Linked DNA regions of Homo sapiens: all the other regions are reported to be linked to region 3. Evidence: microRNA targets listed by miRTarBase, many of them from high-throughput screens and not tested one by one. Region 3 holds a microRNA gene; each other region holds the end of a gene's coding sequence.
The links. Region 3 holds the annotated microRNA hsa-miR-660-3p (ACCUCCUGUGUGCAUGGAUUA, at 1,177-1,197, opposite strand). A microRNA usually pairs through its seed, bases 2 to 8, with sites in the 3' UTR of a target mRNA and lowers its output. Matches are read on the target gene's strand: a 7mer-m8 pairs with bases 2 to 8, a 7mer-A1 pairs with bases 2 to 7 and ends in A, and an 8mer does both.

Region 1: miRTarBase lists CERT1 as a target of hsa-miR-660-3p. The part of its 3' UTR that is shown has no 7-base or 8-base seed match.
Region 2: miRTarBase lists ZCCHC8 as a target of hsa-miR-660-3p. Seed matches in the 3' UTR shown: 7mer-A1 at 1,833-1,839.

The regions. Positions count from the first base shown.
Region 1 is chr5:75,376,776-75,379,897 of GRCh38, reverse strand. CERT1 (ceramide transporter 1) reads left to right here. Exons shown (of 17, transcript NM_001379029.1): 17 at 425-2,123. The coding sequence ends at 552. Among named protein-coding and RNA genes, the nearest start is that of HMGCR, 41 kb to the right of the region's middle. RefSeq lists a silencer at 58-228.
Region 2 is chr12:122,470,619-122,473,740 of GRCh38, forward strand. ZCCHC8 (zinc finger CCHC-type containing 8) reads right to left here. Exons shown (of 14, transcript NM_017612.5): 14 at 982-3,122. The coding sequence ends at 2,879. Among named protein-coding and RNA genes, the nearest start is that of ZCCHC8, 29 kb to the right of the region's middle.
Region 3 is chrX:50,011,221-50,014,488 of GRCh38, reverse strand. It overlaps MIR660 (microRNA 660), which reads right to left and starts at 1,248; the gene lies at 1,152-1,248. The region is part of intron 3 of CLCN5 (chloride voltage-gated channel 5); the gene reads right to left.

The sequences.
Region 1 (3,122 bases), not on the chromosome of region 3:
AGATCATAATTGGTCCAGCTGGGTACAGTGACTCAGCCTGTAATCCCAGCACCTTGGGAGGCTGAGGCGGGCGGATCATGAGGTCAAGAGTTCGAGACCATCCTAGCCAACATGGTGAAAACCCATCTCTACTAAAAATACAAAATTAGCTGGGCATGGTGGCGTGCACCTGTAATCCCAGCTACTCCGGAGGCTGAGGCAGGAGAATCACTTGAACCCCGGAGGCGGAAGTTGCAGTGAGCCAAGATCGCGCCACTGCACTGCACCCTGGCAACAGAGCAAGACTCCGTCTCAAAAAGAAAAAAAAAAGATGCTAATTGGTCCAATGTGAGGAATATTTTAAAAACAAGGGAACAAATTAAGTGCTTCACATATGTTTGGAGAATTGTATCTTAATACATTTTAATTTTCCTTTATCTTGCAGTGAACCCTGGAGGATGGGCACCAGCCTCAGTGTTAAGGGCAGTGGCAAAGCGAGAGTATCCTAAATTTCTAAAACGTTTTACTTCTTACGTCCAAGAAAAAACTGCAGGAAAGCCTATTTTGTTCTAGTATTAACAGGTACTAGAAGATATGTTTTATCTTTTTTTAACTTTATTTGACTAATATGACTGTCAATACTAAAATTTAGTTGTTGAAAGTATTTACTATGTTTTTTGATGTTCCCCTATAGAGTATTGTTTCGTTGGTTTTTGTTGTTGTCGTTGTTGTTGTTTTAAACAGGGTCTTGCTCTGTTTCCTAAGCTGAAGTGCAATGACACCATCACGGCTCACTGCAACCTCAACCTCTGGCCTCAAACAATCCTCTCATCTCAGCCTTCCCAGTAGCTGGGAGTCCCCACAGGCATGTGCCACCATGCTCAGCTAATTTTTTATTTTTTGTAGAGATAGGGGTCTTGCTATGTTACCCAAGCTGGTCTTGAACTCCTGGCCTCAGACAATCCTCCTGCCTCAGCCTCCCAAAGTGCTGGGATTACAGACATGAGCCACCGTGCCTGGCCTTGAAAATTGTAGTTTATAGCCTTTAAAACTTAATTCTTTTATTGTTTCCTTTTTCTTCTAATGCTTATGTAAAGAAATTTTGATATTATAGAACTGTAGAATTGTAGAAGTGCAAACTTCCTGTATTCTTTCCTTTCCCAGAAACTGTTATTTTTGTTGTATATTCCTCCAGATTTTTCTGTGTATGTACTGACATATTTTTGAATGTTAAAATGTTTATACTTACTATTATACAAAATTCTTGTTTTATAACCTTTTTTTCACTTAACAATGTATCTTGACTATCTTTCTTTATAAGACATGAGATGTGTAAAACATCTCATTCTTTTAACATCTGTTACATGCATGTTGCAGAATTTATTAACTAGTCCCATGTTAATGTCTGAGTTGGTTCCATATTTTTACTGTCAACCAGTACAGCACTGAACACCTTTATGCAAAGAGGTAGAATCTTTAACTTTATTTTGGTGTTGTTGAGACAAAGTTTCTCTCTTGCTGCCCAGGCTGGAGTGCAGTGGTGCAATCTTGGCTCACTGCAACCTCTGCCTCCCAGGTTCAAGCGATTCTCCTGCCTCAGCCTCCCGAGTAGCTGGGATTACAGGCGTCCATCACCACGCCCAGCCTATTTTTGTATTTTTAGTAGAGGCAGGGTTTCACCATGTTGGCCAGGCTGGTCTCGAACTCCTTACCTCAGGTGACCTGCTCTCCTGGGCCTCCCAAAATGCTGGGTTTACAGGCGTGAGCCACTGCACTCAGCCCAAAATCTTTAACTTTTTAAAGTAAGTGATACGTTAACATGATTAAAAGCCAAAAGTGGCCAGGTGCAGTGGGTCACACCTGTAATCCCAACACTTTTTGGGAGACTGAGGTGGGAGAATGGCTTGAGGCCAGGAGTTCAAGTCTAGCCTGGATAACATAGCAAGATTCCATCTTGACAAAAAACAATTAGGCGTGGTGGTATACATGTATAGTCCTAGGTACTTGGGAGGCTGAAGCAGGAAGATCGCTTTGTCTGGGAGTTTGAGGCTGCAGTGAGCTGTGATTACACGACTGCACTCCAGCCTGGACAGGTAATGTCTGTCAAAAAATAAATAAATAAAGTCAAAAGTATGAAAAAGTTATACAGTAAAATTTACCCTGTCTTGCATTCACCATATAGTATTAACATATGCTATTACTAGTTTCTTCTAGAAAGTTTTTAATGCTTGAATGAACAAATACAAGTGTATTTTCTACACAGATACACTTTTTTTGTTGTTAAAGAAGCAGCAGCATACTATAAACACTGTTCAACATCTTATATTTGCATTTATTTTATCTTGAAGGTCTCACATATTTGTAAGGAGCTTCCTCATTTTGATGGTTATACAGTATCCCATTGTATAGATGTACATAATTTATTTAATCAGTTCTGCATTGGCGAATATTACAGTTTCCAATTTCTGCCAGAGCAGTGTCATAATTGTATCCATATGTCATTTTGTACTTGCAAGTTTATATGTGGGAAAATTAATAGATGTGGTACTACTGGCCCTGCTAGGGGTTTGTGCATAATTTAGATACTACTTTTCATAGAGGTTATAGTAATTGACCATCTCAACAGCAATAATGAATTGGAGTCCCTGTGTCCCACAGTTTTTCATACAACGTGTAAAACAAAACTTTATAACTTTCCCAACTCATTAGGTGAAAAATACTCTCTCAGTGTAGTTTTAATTGTATTCCTCTTCTTATGACTGAGTTTAAGCCTGCTTTAGTCCATTGAGAATCTTTTGTATAGTACTATTTCTATAAATTCTATTTTGTAATAACATTTAAAATATTAGTAGATATTGCCAATTGTGATACACAAATGGTAAGCAATAACATGAATATTCTCTCATTCTCACCTACACTGGATGTTAAATAATTGACTGAGAAATGTATATTCTTGAGTCCTTTTCTTTAGCTAAAAATAATAGTCAATTATATAATGAAATAATTTTAAACAAGTCTGATTTCTAATGATGTTTATAGTATGTCTTTCTTTTAAAAAATGCAAAAGCTAAATTTATTGTCCGATACTAACTAATATCCCATACTAACATAAGGGATATTGCATTGATGTCTCAGTTGTTTAG
Region 2 (3,122 bases), not on the chromosome of region 3:
CTGAGGCAGGAGAATCACTTGAACTTGGGAGGTGGAGGCTGTAGTGAGCTGTGATCATGCCACTGTACTCCAGCCTGGGTGACAGAGCGAGACCCTGTCCCCCACTCAACACCCCCCAAAAATTGAACAAATGAAATAGCCCATTTTTTGAGAATCAGTGCTTTTGGCTGGGCGCCCGGTGGCTCACACTTATAATCCCAGCACTGTGGGAGGCAAGAGGTGGGCAGATCACCTGAGGTCGGGAGTTCGAGACCAGCCTGACCAACATGAAGAAACCCCGTCTCTACTAAAAATACAAAATTAGCCGGGTGTGTGGCACATGACTGTAATCCCAGCTATTTGGGAGGCTGAGGCAGGAGAATCACTTGAACCCGGGAGGCGGAGCTTGCAGTGAGCCAAGATTGTGCCACTGCACTCCAGCCTCGGCAACAGAGCAAGACTCTGTATCAAAAAAAAAAAAAAAAAAAAAAAAAGAATCAGTGCTTTTGTAGAGCTTTTGACAAGGAGGCAGTACAGCAGTTAAGAGCACAGATACGGGGGTCAGAGAGATCTAGATTTAGATTTACTAGGTTGTGTATCAGCTGTGTGTTTTAGTATGTGTGTATTTAGCTGTGTGTATTTCCTCTCAACAATGAGGTTAACAATGCCTACCCAATGTGGTGACGGTGAAAATGGGGTAATGCACAAAAATACCTTAACACGATGTCTGGTAAATGGCAAAGAGATAACTATTAAGAGACCTCTGGTATTCACAGGTGACTCTACTAATGCAGTACTTCTTAAAGGGACATTTAAACAACTACTGCTCTGATTTAGGGAATAGTCAAGTCTTTAGTTGAACACTCACCTTAAGAACCACTTCTGGAATGTCGACAAGTTCCTTTAACCTCTCTCTGCCTCCCTTTCCTTACTTCCAAGTGGTGATAATAATTTGCCTGACAGAAATGCTGAGCGAGATCAGGTTAAAAACACTATGTAAACAACTGTAAAGGATTGCTTTTATTTTGAACTTAAGCTGAGGAAAAGAAGCCAAAAGTATTTTAAATTTTATTCTATTTCTAGCACATTCTGTGAGGGCTTTAAAAAGAAATTTCTCTCTTTATAATTTTCCTTTCCTTTATTCTTTACAGAACAGTAAATTCTGATTACTCAAGTTCTCAAAAATGAAAGCTATATCTGGAATGTTTCTATTTTGCTCCCCCTGTTGGCCTGAGAGCAGGATAACACTGCCTGAGACTAACAATTCAAGACGATCTAAACATTTATTTTCATGGACTTGACTAATATAAAGATGTAATGGCATTCCACAGAAAGACCTAAACCACAGTTTCAGCTCTATCTTATATATATACCTGACAATTAAAAGCAGTATGTTTATGTTTAATTTTTAATTTTTAACTATTAGGGTTCAAATCTAGAAAATTATTTTTATACAAAGGCTAGCTGCATGCCATTCATTTTTCAAAATAATTACTTTTCAAAAATTCTGCTGTTTCTATATTTAAGGCTGAAATCCACTGAAAACACCCAAACTTGCAATTCCTATCATTATTTTTGTTTTGCTACCACTGATTTTTACAATTTACCTTTTTTTTTTTTTTTTTTTGAGATGGAGTTTTGCTCTTGTTGCCCAGGCTGGAGTGCAATGGCGCGACCTCGGCTCACTGCAACCTCCCACTCCCAGGTTCAAGTGATTCTCCTGCCTCAGCCTCCCGAGTAGCTGGGATTACAGGCATGTACCACCACACCTGGCTAATTTTTGTATTTATGTAGAGATGGGGTTTTGCCATGTTGGCCAGGCTGGTCTCGAACTCCTGACCTCAGGTGATCCTTCCTCCTTGGCCTCCCAAAGTGCTAGGATTATAAGCATGAGCCACCACGCCTGGCCAACAATTTACTTTTAAACTTAAAAGTTATATGCACCGGCCAGGTGAGGTGGCTTACGCCTGTAATCCCAGCACTTTGGGAGGCTGGGCGGGCAGATCACCTGAAGTCAGGAGGTCAAGACCAGCCTGACCCGACGTGGAGAAACCCCATCTCTACTAAAAATACGAAGTTAGCTGGGCGTGGTGGCACATGCCTGTAATCCCAGCTACTCCGGAGGCTGAGGCAGGAGAATCGCTTAAACTCGGGAGGCGGAGGTTGCGGTGAGCCGAGATTGTGCCATTGCACTCCAGCCTGGGCAACAAGAGTGAAACCCTTGTCTCAAAAAAAAAAAAGGTTATATACACTGATTTTACCTGTGAATCACTTTTTTGTATTCAAAGTCTTAGATTATGTATATGAAAACTAATTTATTAAACCTCTGTACACAAAGATGAACATACCTGTATAGCAAGCATATATGAAGGATGAAGTTACAAAAAAGTAAAAGTATTACTAAAATTGACACATGTAAATCACTTACAAAAATACCCCAAATGGGATAAAGCTGCTCATCCCTGATTTTTCTCATTTGGTTGTAGGAGTTGAAACATGAATTTAAAATGGTAGAATTTTTTCTTTTAAAAAGTGATATATTAAACTTATATACAGGATAATTAGCAAAATGTAGAAAGGGAAAACAATGTACAAAAGACAGATAAAAACCATCACTCTCGACGGATAGTCACAATCCAAAAATAGTATAAACCTTAACAAACCCTCTCTAAACCAGGTCATATTCACATCTCCCCCCAAGTTTTGTCAGTGAGAATAAAATATACTGAACTAGTGAGCTCAGTCTTTCTTTAAAATAGGCTTGACTTTGGAACATGAACCTTGGATAGATTTTTAAACATGGGAGGGACAAACAGGAAAACCATTCTATCTATCCACTTAATTAGTACTAATTAACGGAACAAAGTTATTAAATAGCTCTCAGTGCTAAGTCAAGCCATTATTCAGAGGCCTTTTTGTTTTTCTGCTGGTTTCGGGGTGAGTTCTTTAACAAGCTTCTTATCCTGAGGTACATTCCAGTAGATTCTGCCATATTCTCAAATTCAAATGGCGTGATTCCAGTTGCAAATTTGCTCATGTCAGGTATAGGGCTATGAATTTTAGTGGCCGTTGAAGGACTGGTGTCTGCAGGAAAGAGCTTCTGGCTGCCCCCATTGCTGATGTCACAGTTTGGTACGACACTG
Region 3 (3,268 bases):
GGGTGTCAATAAGAAGTCCCATGTTGTGGCCCACACTAACTCAGCACGTGCAGGAATATTAGGTGACAAAAAGTCAAGTCTCCTACACATATTCTTTGAGGCAAGAACCAAGTCCATCTTGTGTGATACCATATGCCCACTGCCCTGGCAGCACAGCGTTAGCATGTACTAAGTGCTCAATACTTGTGAAAGGGAGGTAGAGGGGAAGGAGAGGGAGGAGGAAGTGTGACTCACAGGCACTTTGTCTGTCTATGGGCAGAAAAAGGCCCCTCTGAGAGTCCTGGAATAGGTGCTGCACTGAGACAGCATGCACATTTAGGTGGCAAGGATACAAGGGGAAGCAGAGCAGCAGGCTCAGGATGTGCACACCACATATATTTGCACAGGTACCCATGTCTGTGGGAGGGAATAAAGAAAAGCCTGATTTCTGGCACCCTGAGCCCATGTATTCACAGGAAGTTGGATGACATGAGGATGCTTATTCTCCATGAGCCTGCTAGACAGTAAGGTCGGCATCTCTGACAGGTTAGTTTACTGTGGCATTCCCAAACAGCAGGAATTCAGTAAATTTGTTAAAGGGATGAATAAATGAATGGACCAAAAACATGCACACACAAATGACTGACTGAAAGAATGAACAAAGGAAAGAGAAGGGATGGACAGGCTCTGTCCTACACATAGGCAAGGCTCACAAGCTGGTATCCTTGCACAAGCCCATTGCACTGCTAAGACAGCACTTGTGCCTAGGCTGCAAGGCTAGGAGAGGGCAAGCAAAAATCAAAGTCCAGGCACCTGCACACCAGGCATGCATCTGAGTGTGTGTGGCAAGGAAACTTGCAGGCAAGTTTAGATAATAAGGCTCCTTCCTTTCAGCTTTGTACAGAAATGTTTCTACACTTACACATGTGTGTGTGCACATGCATGCACAATGTGAGCATGTGTATTCATAAGAGAATGAGAAGGCTCAATTCCTGACACACCTGTGTCTGTTGCCTAGGCCTGGGGAAGTCTAGGCACCTAATACCTCCACTAGATAGGAAGTCCCGGAGAGAGACACTGTCCATTATTTAGCAGGGTACTCCCAGCACAGCTCATGGCACATCAAAAGTGCGCAATAAACACGGGCTACTTGGATTGTTCAGCAGAAGATTCACGATGACAAGGCTCACCCTCCTGTAATCCATGCACACAGGAGGTGTTTTGAGAATTCACAACTCCGATATGCAATGGGTATGGGAGAAGGAGCAGTTCATTCTTCTGCACATGGGAGGGGGGTGGGGGAGGAGAGAGAAAGAAAGACAGAAAGAGAGAAAGAGAGAGAGAGGAGAGAGATTGATTGATTGATTGAGAGAGAGACAGATTGAGATTAAAGTGTCAGGTGCACGCCTGGAGAAGCAGTGCCAAGTCTATTCCCTAATAAAGTACTTGTTGTGTGTTCACTTAGCCTCATGTGCTCACTGAATGTGTGGTTATGGAGGAGGTGGAGACAGTAATGAAATGATGGCTTCCCTGCCACAGTCTGCATGGACTCGGCATTGGGAACGTACATGAGCAATGCAGGAGCTCATTCTCTTCCACCCTTCACCTGACTAGCTTATCACTGCCCCTAGCTAGCACTTATACTAAATCAGTGATTCTCAAACTTAAGTGAGCATCAGAATCAGTTGAGAGCCTTGGTAAAGTACAGATTTCCATGGTTTATGGTGTAGTAGGTCAGGGATGAGCCCAAGAATTGGCATTTTGAACAAGCTCCTAGGTGATACAGATGCTGCTGGCCCAGGGACCACACTGAGAACCACTGCTCTATACATAACTTAAAGAAATGAAATAATGGGACATAGAGGGGTGATGCAAAGACTCTACACTTTTAAACATGGATGAGATTCCCTCTCTGAATTTTTGTACAAGGCAATGGACTGGAATAGCATTTGTACCCAACTACGAAGAATGAAAGAGAGGGACAACCTGAATAGAAGGCTCGAGCATCTTCAAATCCATTGTGTTTGTGTGTATGTACAAAAGAAACAGCACTCTCTGGCTCACAGGTGATTTTCCTATGACCATACAAAGGTGAAGTGTCTTTTCTTCATATGCATGTGTGAGATGACTGACAAGTAGGGCCACTTTCCTTCAAGCTCTGGTGGCATAAGCAGCAAGTAGAAAGCCTATTGCCTTGCACACCAGACATGAGTGAGAAGATGCTGCTAATGACACTCATTATCCTATGCACACTGTGGCTGCAGCTCTGTGTAAGGGGAGACACACCTTTTGTAGTTCTCTAGCTGAGCACTGTTGGGGGGTTGGAGAGGGGATGATGGGAAGACTCACTCTCTGCTACATACGTATGCATGAACAATGTGGGCAACGGAAGTTCCTTCTCTTAAACATGCTCACTAGGCATGTGAGTATGAGTTCTGTGTCTTTCTTGACCACCCTGTCTCTCCATGTCTGGTGCATGACAGGAGCGCCACCCCTGCTTGTTAAAGGTGGGAATGAATGAAGGATGGGGATTATAAACAGGTGTTCTTCGCTCTATGCAGAAAAGGCTCAGCCGTGGAATGCTTGCCTGGGTGCACCGCATTGACACAGCACTTGCATCCAGGTACCAGGATTCAAGAGGGGGAACAGGACTGAAGGCCCAAGCAGCCATACAGAGTATGTGTGTGTGCACGTGTGCGTGTGTGCACATGTGCTCACATGGGTTTACAGGGAAGGCTCACCGCATATAGTGTGTTCATCTGTGACTGTACAGAAAAGTAATGAAAGGATCTCTCCTATACAGAGCAGCAAGAAGGAAAGTAGCAGTAAGAAGACTTCCCTCATTTAATCCCCATCTATAAGGGAGTTAAGGAAGCTCACTGGCTTGCACGCTGAGAATGGGAGAGAGGAGAGCACAACAGGCTCCATCTCCTACCCTTTCAGTAGGTGGGGTTCTCTGCATGCAGGGCCATGTCTCTGAGTGTGTCTGGTGTACAAGGATTGGGGACATTTGAGAATTTCACTTGAGCAGAACCTGCACATGCTTGTGCATGCAGACTGGGTAACAAGGAACATATAGATCTACTTCATTCTTTTGAACAGTGGCCTATTCATCCACAACATTTATGTATAGTGTGTTTATGAGTCCCTACCAGAATGTAGGGTAGCAACCTGTCCATTTTGATCCCTGCTATATCCTTGGTGATGAACATAATACCTGCTGTCTAATAGACACTTGAGTATCTGTGGAAGGAAGAGGAGGGAGAGTTGATGTGCAAAAGCTCTGTCC